Homo sapiens: one gene and its partners. The protein of the gene in region 1 interacts with the protein of each later gene in a pairwise test. Each region holds a gene or a part of one and is shown in the gene's direction. Other genes may lie near its edges. The genes, in order: HTATIP2, MIEF1 and PLIN2.

The links.
Region 2: the proteins of HTATIP2 (region 1) and MIEF1 interact in binary tests that used the Homo sapiens proteins (3 or more experiments, as listed by UniProt).
Region 3: the proteins of HTATIP2 (region 1) and PLIN2 interact in binary tests that used the Homo sapiens proteins (3 or more experiments, as listed by UniProt).

The regions. Positions count from the first base shown.
Region 1 is NC_000011.10:20,373,700-20,377,351, forward strand, and holds part of HTATIP2 (protein HTATIP2), read left to right. Parts: intron 1-2,880; coding exon 2,881-3,018; intron 3,019-3,652. UniProt on the Homo sapiens protein: Represses translation by preventing reactivation of elongation factor eEF1A. May also inhibit nuclear import by competing with nuclear import substrates for binding to a subset of nuclear transport receptors.
Region 2 is NC_000022.11:39,508,640-39,512,291, forward strand, and holds part of MIEF1 (mitochondrial dynamics protein MIEF1), read left to right. Parts: intron 1-782; exon of another isoform or gene 783-932; intron 933-2,648; 5' UTR 2,649-2,655; coding exon 2,656-2,799; intron 2,800-3,209; coding exon 3,210-3,387; intron 3,388-3,592; coding exon 3,593-3,652. UniProt on the Homo sapiens protein: Mitochondrial outer membrane protein which regulates mitochondrial fission/fusion dynamics.
Region 3 is NC_000009.12:19,117,418-19,121,069, reverse strand, and holds part of PLIN2 (perilipin-2), read left to right. Parts: coding exon 1-190; intron 191-1,238; coding exon 1,239-1,420; intron 1,421-2,614; coding exon 2,615-2,749; intron 2,750-3,652. UniProt on the Homo sapiens protein: Structural component of lipid droplets, which is required for the formation and maintenance of lipid storage droplets.

The DNA.
Region 1 (3,652 bases):
AACTGGCATGAGGGGAAGAAACAGATGTGGAAGAAAAATTTAGTGTCTTAGAATTTTTCTATGTAGTTTTGGGCTGTTTCTCTTGGCACACTTTCAGCACATCTAAAGTCTCCATTTGGAGAATGGCTCTGAGGGTAATCACTTCTCTCAGGATGTGCTGAGTACTTAAATTGGTTTGCTTTACACTAATTTTAAAAGCAACTGCATGAATTTGAGTCGGTATATAGACAGCTTGGCAAGTCCGTTGTTCAGGACTGAGTGTCAAAGTATACAACAAAAAGTATACAAAAGGAGATGGTGATGACTCGTGAGTAAAGAGGTAAGTTTATATTACCCACAAACTAAGGTAGAAAAAGTAAGGCAGAAAAATAACACTGTCCTCCAGGTGGTGGATATAGTTAAAAATGTACTTGTGAGTGATGGGAAAGGAGGATGAGGAAGGCTTTTACAGTAATGGTAATGTTCTATTTCTTGATCTTGGAACTGGTGGCAGAGCATGTTCAGTTTATGAAAATTTATTGAGCTCTATACTTATGTTTACTTTTATGATACACTTCCATACAAAGTTAAAAAATCTGCATGGGCGTATTGTTTTAAAATTGAATTCTGTATTAGTTTCCTATTGCTGCTTTAATAAATTCCTCAAATTTAGCAGCTTAAGACAACACAAATTTATCATCTTAGAAGTCTGACACGGGTTTACCTGAGATAAAATCAAGGTGTTGACAGAGCTGCATTCCTTTCTGGGAGGCTGTAGGACAGAAACCATTTCCATACGTTTTTCAGCTTCTAGAGGCCACCCCCATTCCTTGGCCTGTGGTCCCCTTACCATCCTTAAGGCCAGCAATGTGGTAGCTGAGCCCTTCTTAGGTTGCATTACTCCAGCCTGCTCTTCTGCCTCGTTCTTTTACTTTTAAGGGCCCTTGTGATTACATTGGGCCCACATGGATAATTCAAACTAATCTCTCTGTTTCAAGGCCAGCTGATTAGCACCCTAATTCTAAACACTGAATTTCTAAAACACTGAATTTCCCTTCCACATCTATTTCTTCCCCTCATGCCAGTTCACTAGAACTCTGATTTTAATAATGTGTTTGTTACAACAAAATGACACAGTTGACTGGTGAAATAAATTCAGTTTTTTTGTTGTTGTTGTTTTAGCATGATTCATCTTGCTTCTGCCTAAATACCATCTGTGATGGAATTCCCCCTTGTCATGTAACATGACATATTCACAAAGATTAGGACGTGGGCATCTTTGAGGGACCATTATTCTGCCTACCACAATCACGGATTAGTCATTTTCATTAGCGAGAGAGGGTGGGGGATAAAAAAGGAACATGGGTACAGTGAAAAGAGCACTGCTCAGAGTCCAGAATCTGCACTCTGCTCTCGGCTCTCCCACTTCCCAGCTAACAGTTCACCCGCCCACTGGACCTTGGTTCCTGTCTATATCATGAGGGGACTGGATGTGATATTTCCTAAGGTACCTTCTAACATTCTGTGAAAGATACACATCGCCCTACCAAATAGAACATTTAGAATCAGTAACTACTGAGGAGCAAATTTTTTAATTAAAAAAAAAAATCAGGCCGGGCGCGGTGGCTCACACCTGTAATCCCAGCACTTTGGAAGGCCAAGGTGGGCGGGTCATCTGAGGTCAGGAGTTCAAGACCAGCCTCGCTAACGTGGTGAAACCCTGTCTCTACTAAAATACAAAAATTAGCCGGACATGGTGACATGTGTCTATAATCCCAGCTACTTGGGAGGCTGAGGCAGGAGAATCACTTGAACTCAGGAGGCAGAGGTTGTGGTGAGTGGAGACCACGCCACTGCCCTCCAGCCTGGGCAACAGAGCAAGACTGTCTCAATCAATCAATCACTGGGGCAGTAGTCCAGTCTTCAGATTTGGAATTCCTACTACTCTAAGACCTCATTCTGTAATTGTGACTACCTATAAAGTTCAGCTTCAATAGACTTTAGACTTGTCTTCAGCTGTCTTGGGTTTGAAGATGCCAGAATTTATGGTGGTCTCAAGAGACTGTTACTCCTTGGAATTCCCTTTTCTGGGTAAAGGTGCATGCTTTTCAGTTAGGCCCTGGAAGTGAGTCTATATTCTGTTATTTGTGTCATTCTCTTCCCTCCCCCTTTTATTGCCACTTAGTTCTGTTTGTTTCTGACTGGATTTACCTTTTCTCTGCTTTCATTGGCGTTTTGTTCATTCATTTTTGGAGCATCTACCATATGCTGGACATGTGCTGATGCTGAGAGATGAATTAAGAAAAAAGACCCAGCCACTGCCTTCACTGGACTGAATCTAGATTGGGTGTCTCCAAACACTTTTGACTAGAGACCCATTAATAAAAACGTTTGAGGATGCATTCTTTACTAATGTGTGAGGTACATTGTAGAGCATACACAAAAATTGGGAATTAAATAGACTTTGTTCTCTTAGTGCCTGGGGAGTGTCCTCACCCATACTCGGAGACCCTACCACATTAGAATTGACACAGAAAACAGGAGTGTAAAGTTGTGAAGTTATTAAGACAAAAAAAAAAGTCTGGCTTAAAAGTAGTTTCTCAGCCTGATCTTACTGTTCCCTTTGTTCTTTGCAGATTTGTTTGGTGTCTGTGTTTCAATGTCATTGTCCTTGTTTCCTTATTGCAGTCCAGTCTTGCTGCTAAAGCTGGTGTGCCTATCCAGAGGACCAGACCTGGAGCCTTTCCCAGGGTCTAAGCCTGACTTTCATGTATTGCTTGGACACATTTTATTTAGATCTCCATCCTTCTAGGCCTCCCAGCCTGCTACCCAAGCCAAGTAGTAATCTTTAAGATGAACTTGCTGCTTTTTGGAAATAACTCATGTCCTTTTCCCCCTTAGGAGGGATTTGTTCGTGTTGACCGAGATTATGTGCTGAAGTCTGCAGAGCTGGCAAAAGCTGGAGGGTGCAAACATTTCAACTTGCTATCCTCTAAAGGAGCTGATAAATCAAGCAATTTTTTATATCTACAAGTTAAGGTTTGTGCAAGTTTCTGTTTTTCATACACTTTGGAGAACCCTAGCTATTTGGCAGTACTAAAGAATATAAAATATTATATAATACAAAAACCATCAAATGCATCATATTATGCATTTGTATGGCTACGGGACTGCAGGAATATATTTAGTAAACAGGAATGATTGGAAAGGTAATTTCCAATGTCTTCCTCTCTATTAATTATCCAGCAACAAATGGAATGAGATATGGCATCTCCAGCCTTGACTGTCAGCATGGCAGCTTAGCATTGGAAGAGACTTGGAGGCAGTGATTCTTAAACTTTTCCGTCAGTCTCCCTAATGACTGAGCGGAAAGAAGAGCTTTTATTTGTGTAGAGATTTGGAGAAATCTATCCTGAAGCAGTATTCTAGTTACAGACTCAACTTTCTTTTCTTTTTTTTTTTTTTGAGACAGGTTCCCAGGCTGGAGTGCAGTGGCATGATCTTGGCTCGCTGCAGCCTCTGCCCCGCCAAGTAACTGGGACTAGAGGCATGAGCCACCATGCCTGGCTAATTTTTGTATTTTTGGTAGAGATGGGGTTTTGCCATGTTGCCCAGGCTGGTCTCAAACTCCTGAGTTCAAATGATCAGCCCATCTCAGCCTCCCAAAGTGCTG
Region 2 (3,652 bases), on another chromosome or scaffold:
CTGTAAATACAAACGTTATCTCTTCTCCCTGGCTTTGCTCTGTGCATTTGAGGTGGGAATGTACTCGGTTTGGCGAAATAGTCTTTCATGTCCCTAAACCTGAAGCCTCTATTGACTGTAAATGGTAGAGAAAAGGAAAGTACCCCCAAGGTGTGAACTCTAGTTAGGGAAAAAAATATTTTTGGGCTTGACAGTGACTCTTAGTTAACTCAATTACTGGAATAATAGAGTCAGAAATATTTCTTTGTTTTTCAGGGAGGTAGAGGCAGGAGCGTAAGATGTGGAAGCTAGAAATATCCACTTGTAACACGGTATTAGAAGGAATGTTATTTTACATGGAAGATAATCCTCAGTGATCCTTTTTTTTTTTTCTTCAAGACGGAGTCTTGCTCTGTCACCCAGGCTGGAGTGCAATGGTGATTCTCCTGCCTTGGCCTCCCGAGTAGCTGGGATTACAGGCATGCACCATCATGCCTGGCTAATTTTTTGTATTTTTAGTAGAGATGGGGTTTCACTATGTTGGCCAGGCTGGTCTTGAACTTCCGACCTCGTGATCCACCCACCTTGGCCTCCCAAAGTGCTGGGATTACAGGTGTGAGCCACCGCGCCCGGCTGATCCTGTCTCTTGATGTCCTCCCATTCTGGGACGCTAAATGGTATCCGACTTTGTTTTCCCTTATGTCATTCCTGGTGTGAAGGACACGGGATATTATAGAGGAGAGTGGCAGCATGCTGAGTGGTATTCCGATCTGAATCACACTGTCATCCTTTATCCGGCTCAGGCCCAGGGTTCTAACTCCACAGGAATGGGCTTATCTGGGGACTGCTGCTGCTGCAGTCAGGAAGACTCCACTGTAGTCGGGAGCAGCACTGGCCTGAGCACTGCACTGGAGGCCAGCCTCTTCGCTGTGGTGCCCAAGTACTTCTTTCAGGTGAACACATTTTTAGTTCCTCTTCCAGGTGTAATCGAGCAGATGGGTGTTTTGTTTTCCAGTTAGCAGTCGAGTCTGCAGTGTCCTTTGTGTTTTTTATCTCCCGGTATACCAGTCTCACCTAAGCTTTTATAGTCCCCGCTGCGCACTTCTCTCAAGAAACAAAGCATTTGTCAAGTAGGAGGGTCCATGGAGGGACCTTTCTCACATATGGACGTGTAGTTTCAGTTCCGTGTGCAGGATGTTTGGTACATGTTGTTTTGTGTTTTGTTTGCAGAAAGTAGATAGAATAAGGGCCGATTTGATTTGGGTAAGGGTGAGCATGGTACAGTAGAAAAAGCGTCATACAAGGAGTGGGGAGTCCTGAGTTCTGGAGATGACTGTGTCGTTTTGTTTTCGTTTTTGAGACGGAGTTTAGCTCTTGTTACCCAGGCTAGAGTGCAATCGTGTGATCTCGGCTCACTGCAACCTCCGCCTTCCGGGTTCAAGGGATTCTCCTGTCTCAGCCTCCTGAGAAGCTGGGATTACAGGCATGCGCTGTCACATCTGGCTAATTTTATATTTTTAGTAGTGACGGGGTTTCTCCATGTTGGCCAGGCTTGTCTTGAACTCCTGATCTCAGGTGATCCGCCTGCCTCGGCCTCCCAAAGTGCTGGGATTACAGGCGTGAGTCACCGTGCCCGGCCCATTTTGTTTTTTTATTTTTATTTTTAAGAGATGGGGTCTCACTCTGTCACTGAGGCTAGAGTGCAGTGGCGTGATCATAGCTCACTGTAGCCTCAAACTCCTGGGCTCAAGCATTCCTCCTGCCTCAGCCTCCTAAGTAGATAGGACTACAGGCATGTGCCACCATGCTCAATTTATTTTTATCTTTTACTTTTGGAGATGGGGGTCTTGCCATGTTGCTCAGGTTGGTCTTGAACTTCTGGCCACAAGCGATCTTCCCACCTCAGCCTCCCGGGTAGCTAGGATTATAGGCATGAGCCACTGCGCCTGTACCATTTCTTTTCTCTGAGACCTGACACATCACCTCCCTATGTTGAGAACCTCTGTGTGAGGTGATGTGATGGCATTAGATGAGCTCCAAGGTCCCGCTCAGATCTAACCTTCCACAAAGTAGTGGCCAAAGGACGAAGAAATGACCTGCATTATAACCCCTGTGATGGGGTAGAGAGACCTGCTTTATAACCTCTGTGAAGGGGTAGAGAGACCTGCATTATAACCCCTGTGAAGGGGTAGAGACCTGCATTATAACCCCTGTGAAGGGGTAGAGACCTGCTTTATAACCCCTGTGAAGGGGTAGAGACCTGCATTATAACCCCTGTGAAGGGGTAGAGACCTGCATTATAACATTGTGAAGGGGTAGAGACCTGCATTTTAACATTGTAAAGGGGCAGAGAGAGGGCTGTTTTGCATGGTGGGGTACTTCATTGTAATACAAAAAAGGACTGACACTGAGCTTAATGCTTTCTTAATCTCACTAGCTTGGGGAAAGTTTTCCTACAATACCCAAGATCAGCCCCTCCTCCTTGCATCCTGATCTATCATGGGACATTGTAGCTCCCTCCAGACCCTAAAGCATGCAGTGCTGGAGGCAAGAAGATTTGGGTTGCTGGAACTCACAGAGTACCCTGTACTTGTTGGGGTTTGGCTTGTTAGGGGAGGGAGGTTCTTGGGGTCCCAGTACTTATGGCCGTGTTCTGTCTTCATTCTCAGATGAGCAATGGCAGGCGCTGGTGAGCGCAAAGGCAAGAAGGATGACAATGGCATTGGCACGGCCATTGACTTTGTGCTCTCCAATGCCCGGCTGGTGCTGGGGGTGGGTGGAGCGGCCATGCTGGGCATCGCCACGCTGGCAGTTAAGCGGGTAAGTGCATGCAGCCAGGGCTGGGGGTGGAATGTAGTGGTATGGTCATAAGATGTAATGTTTTATAGAAAGAAAATGTCGAAGCGTTCTAGGAGGAAATGATCGCAATGATAAGTGAAAAAAACAGGTTTCAAAAGTATGTATAGAGTGATCGTCATTACATGCATCTAGAAAGAAACATACCAGATATTACAAACAGTTTTCTCTGGGTCATGACGTGGATTATCTATGTCTTATATCATGTAGTCTTCCCTGAGATTTTCTGCGTGGAGCAAAGTATTCTATAATCTAAAATAAAAACAAAATTACTAAAAGAACTTACTAGGACAGAGCTTCTGGGGAGGAAGTAAATTGGAAGGAAATAGGGAAAGAGGGCAGGTTTATGTCCTGTGTCCTCTCTGCTATTTCAGATGTACGATCGGGCGATCAGTGCCCCTACCAGCCCCACCCGCCTGAGCCATTCGGGGAAAAGGAGCTGGGAAGAACCCAACTGGATGGGCTCCCCACGACTGCTGAACAGGGACATGAAGACGGGCCTGAGCCGGTCCTTGCAGACCCTTCCCACAGACTCCTCCACCTTCGACACAGGTGAGAAGGGCTGCTGCCCCTCCTGGGACCTCTCTGGACTTTCAGTACCACTCCTGCACTCAGCAGATGTTTCCTGAGCACATCTGTGCCAGGCACTGTGCCAGCACTTGCCCTCCATGCCAGGCCCTTCTTTCTGGGGCTGAGGCAGCTGTGGACTGAGCAGGCATGGGCAGAGCTCACGTGCCTCTCTCTCTTGCCTTGGCAGATACATTCTGCCCGCCCCGGCCCAAGCCAGTGGCCAGGAAGGGCCAGGTAGACTTGAAGA
Region 3 (3,652 bases), on another chromosome or scaffold:
GGGGTGATGGACAAGACCAAAGGGGCAGTGACTGGCAGTGTGGAGAAGACCAAGTCTGTGGTCAGTGGCAGCATTAACACAGTCTTGGGGAGTCGGATGATGCAGCTCGTGAGCAGTGGCGTAGAAAATGCACTCACCAAATCAGAGCTGTTGGTAGAACAGTACCTCCCTCTCACTGAGGAAGAACTAGGTAACTGGAATTTTATCTTGAAATACTGTTTTATATTAAATCTTTCTTAAACAGCTTCATTGACATATACTCTCATCTTGAGTCTAAATTTACACAGTTGTGCAAGCATCACTGCAATCCAGTTTCAGAACACTTCTGCTACCCCAAAAGATCCTCATGCCTGTTTGCAGTCAGTCCTTTTTAATTTAATTTAATTTTATAGAGATGGGATCTCACTATGTTGCCCAGGCTGATCTCGAACTCCTGGGCTCAAACGATCCACCTGCCTTGACCTCCCAAAGTTCTGGGATTACAGATGTGAGCAACCACTAATCTTTTTGCCTCTATAGATTTTCCTTCCTAAAGCAATCATAAAGTTCACATTGAATCGTACGTAGTAAGTTTTGAAACCTTAGCAAAAATTGGCCTTGAAAAATATTTTCTGTAAATGGATAGTCTTTAATGGATTGCTTTATAAAATCCTCCTTACAAAGAATCATCATTAGGTAATGTGTGCCAGGTACCATGCCGCTCAAGTTCACTCTAGGCTGGGAGCAATGGTGCATGCATGCCTACAATCCCAGCACTTTGGGAGGCTAAGACAGGCAGATCGCTTGAGTTCAGGAGTTTGAGATTAGCCTGGGCAACATGGCGAAACCCTAAAAAACACAAAAATTAGCTGGGCATGGTGGCTTGTTCCTAGAGTCCTAGCTACTCGGGAGGCTGAGGTGAGAGGATCAGTTGAGCTCGGGAGGTTGAGGCTGCAGTGAGCCAAAATTGTGCCACTGTACTCCAGCCTGGGCAACAAAGCAAGACCTGTTTCCAAAAAAAAAAAAGCAGTTTACTCTAGTGGGAGAAACGTGTAGATGCATGCAGTGTGTATCAGATACAGTAATATGTTCAGGGTAGTCAAGTCCAGCAGCAGACGTGAGCAGTCTTGGAAAAATGACTGCATGATTGCTAAGTGATTGGGTAGAAGTAAGAAAGTCAAGACCCAGGTTAGAGTCCAGGCCTTATCACTTGTCACTGTGATCCCTTAAGTTTTTTTGTCTCTTATTTCTAACTTCAGAAAAAGAAGCAAAAAAAGTTGAAGGATTTGATCTGGTTCAGAAGCCAAGTTATTATGTTAGACTGGGATCCCTGTCTACCAAGCTTCACTCCCGTGCCTACCAGCAGGCTCTCAGCAGGGTTAAAGAAGCTAAGCAAAAAAGCCAACAGACCATTTCTCAGCTCCATTCTACTGTTCACCTGGTGAGTAAAACTTTATTTTAAGGTGTCTGAAGTGGGTTCATTTATCTCTAGGCCCAAGAATTAAATGTAATCACAAAATCCAAGAATTTCATTCTTAGTTGACAAACAACCCAATAGAAAACTGGACAAAGAATATGGAGACAGCTCACAGAAAAAGGAAGTATAACTAGTTGAAATATAGGAAGCAATGCTAATCTCGCTCTGAGGGGTCAAATACTGACATCTCTCTTGTCCTGCCACACGGGAAATGTGGCTGTTGGCAACGGTGTAGAGAAAGAACCACACTTGTGCAGCTCTTGCTCTAAGGGACTGATTCAAGAGACAGTTTTAGTAAAGTTACAAGCATACCTACACTTGGAGCTGTTTTACTTTTTATCTTACAGATGTGTATATTTGTTTAAAGTTGCAAGAGACTATAACAATGCACATCCACTAACAGGACTAATTAAATTGATATATCACAATAGACTACTGTGTAGCCATTAAAGGTTTCCAAGTTAAAGAACAGTATGTACCATTCTGTACTGCCATGAGAAAACCATTTCTTCTTAGAAGGGGAAATAGTGGTTGGCAACAGGGAAGAGGAAGGTCAAATTCCTTTCTGTTTTGTAATGCTAACTTATCCTTTACTCATGTACACATTAAATTTTAGTTGCTGGCTGGGCGTGGTGGCTCATGCCTATAATCCCAGCACTTTAGGAGGGCAAGGTGGTTGGATCACCTGAGGTCAGGAGTTCGAGACCAGTCTGGCCAACAAGGTGAAATCCTGTCTCTACTAAAAATACAAAAATTAGCTGGGCATGGTGGCGTATGCCTGTAATCCCAGCTACTCGGTAGGCTAAGGCACGAGAAGGAGGTTCAGTGAGCTGTGATCGCGCCACTGTACTTCAGCCTGGGTGACAGAGTGACACTCAAAAAAAATTTTTTGTAGTTTTTTAGTTGCTTTACCTGTGCTAAACTGGAAGTAAATGTGGAGTCAGTGATTTAATAGTTAAATAGAGGCAGTAAAGAGCTACTACTGCTTGGTTAATTTACACATATTGATAATAAATAATAATGATAGCAGGAATAGATCTTATTCAACTCCAGGAAATTCTTAGTTTTTATGTTGCCTGATTTACATCATACATCTGCAAACAGGCTAACGTGAATATCTGACTTGTGTGTTCCTTTGTCTTGTTTCAATGTGTCTAGATTGAATTTGCCAGGAAGAATGTGTATAGTGCCAATCAGAAAATTCAGGATGCTCAGGATAAGCTCTACCTCTCATGGGTAGAGTGGAAAAGGAGCATTGGATATGATGATACTGATGAGTCCCACTGTGCTGAGGTAAGATGACTGGGACGGTCATTTGTTGGTTGCTGAAGAAGTTCTTATCAGACTTTTCATTTCAATTTTTCCATACTATGTCTTAGAATACTCTTCTCTATCAAAAGGTTGAACAATACCATGTACATAGGTGGCTAGTTATGTGGCAGAAAAGCAAAACTAGGCAGCGAATAATTTTATCTAACAACCTATGAGTATACATATGCCCCAAGTGAGATACAACTAAATGAGAAACACAGGCCTTGCCCTCATAATGGGTACAGACTAACAGGGGATACAGCCAGCCATGCTGTCCTATTTTGTGCCTTTTTAATGCTCCTTGCAGAAGAGGGCTATCTCATAGGCAGTACACTCAGAGTAGCCAAGTCCGGTTGTTGTTTAACGGCATAAATACAGGTACTATTGGCTGGGCGCGATGGCTCACGCCTGTAATCCCAACACTTTGGGAGGCCGAGGCGGGTAGATCACGAGGTCAGGAGATCGAGACCATCCTGGCCAACATGGTGAAACCCTGTCTCTACTAAAAATACAAAAAATGAGCCAGGCATGGTGGCACGTGCCTGTAGTCCCAGCTACTCGGGCAGCTGAGGCAGGAGAATAGCTTGAACCTGGGAGGCAGAGGTTGCCATGAGCCGAGATCATGCTACTGCACTCCAGCCTGGGCAACAGAGTAAGACTCTGTCTCAAAAAAAAAAAAAAGAAAACATATGGGAAGACTATCTCAGGCAGCCTTGGAGTGGGGGTAGTTGAGTCACATTGCTTTCTGGAAGAGATGAATGGTAAGCTGAGAACTAATGGGTGAATAAACTAGGTGAAAGGGCAATAAGGTGACCAAGGTTCCAGAGGGAAGGCATAGCATCTTGGCTGGGTGCAATGGCTCACACCTGTAATCTCAGCATTTTG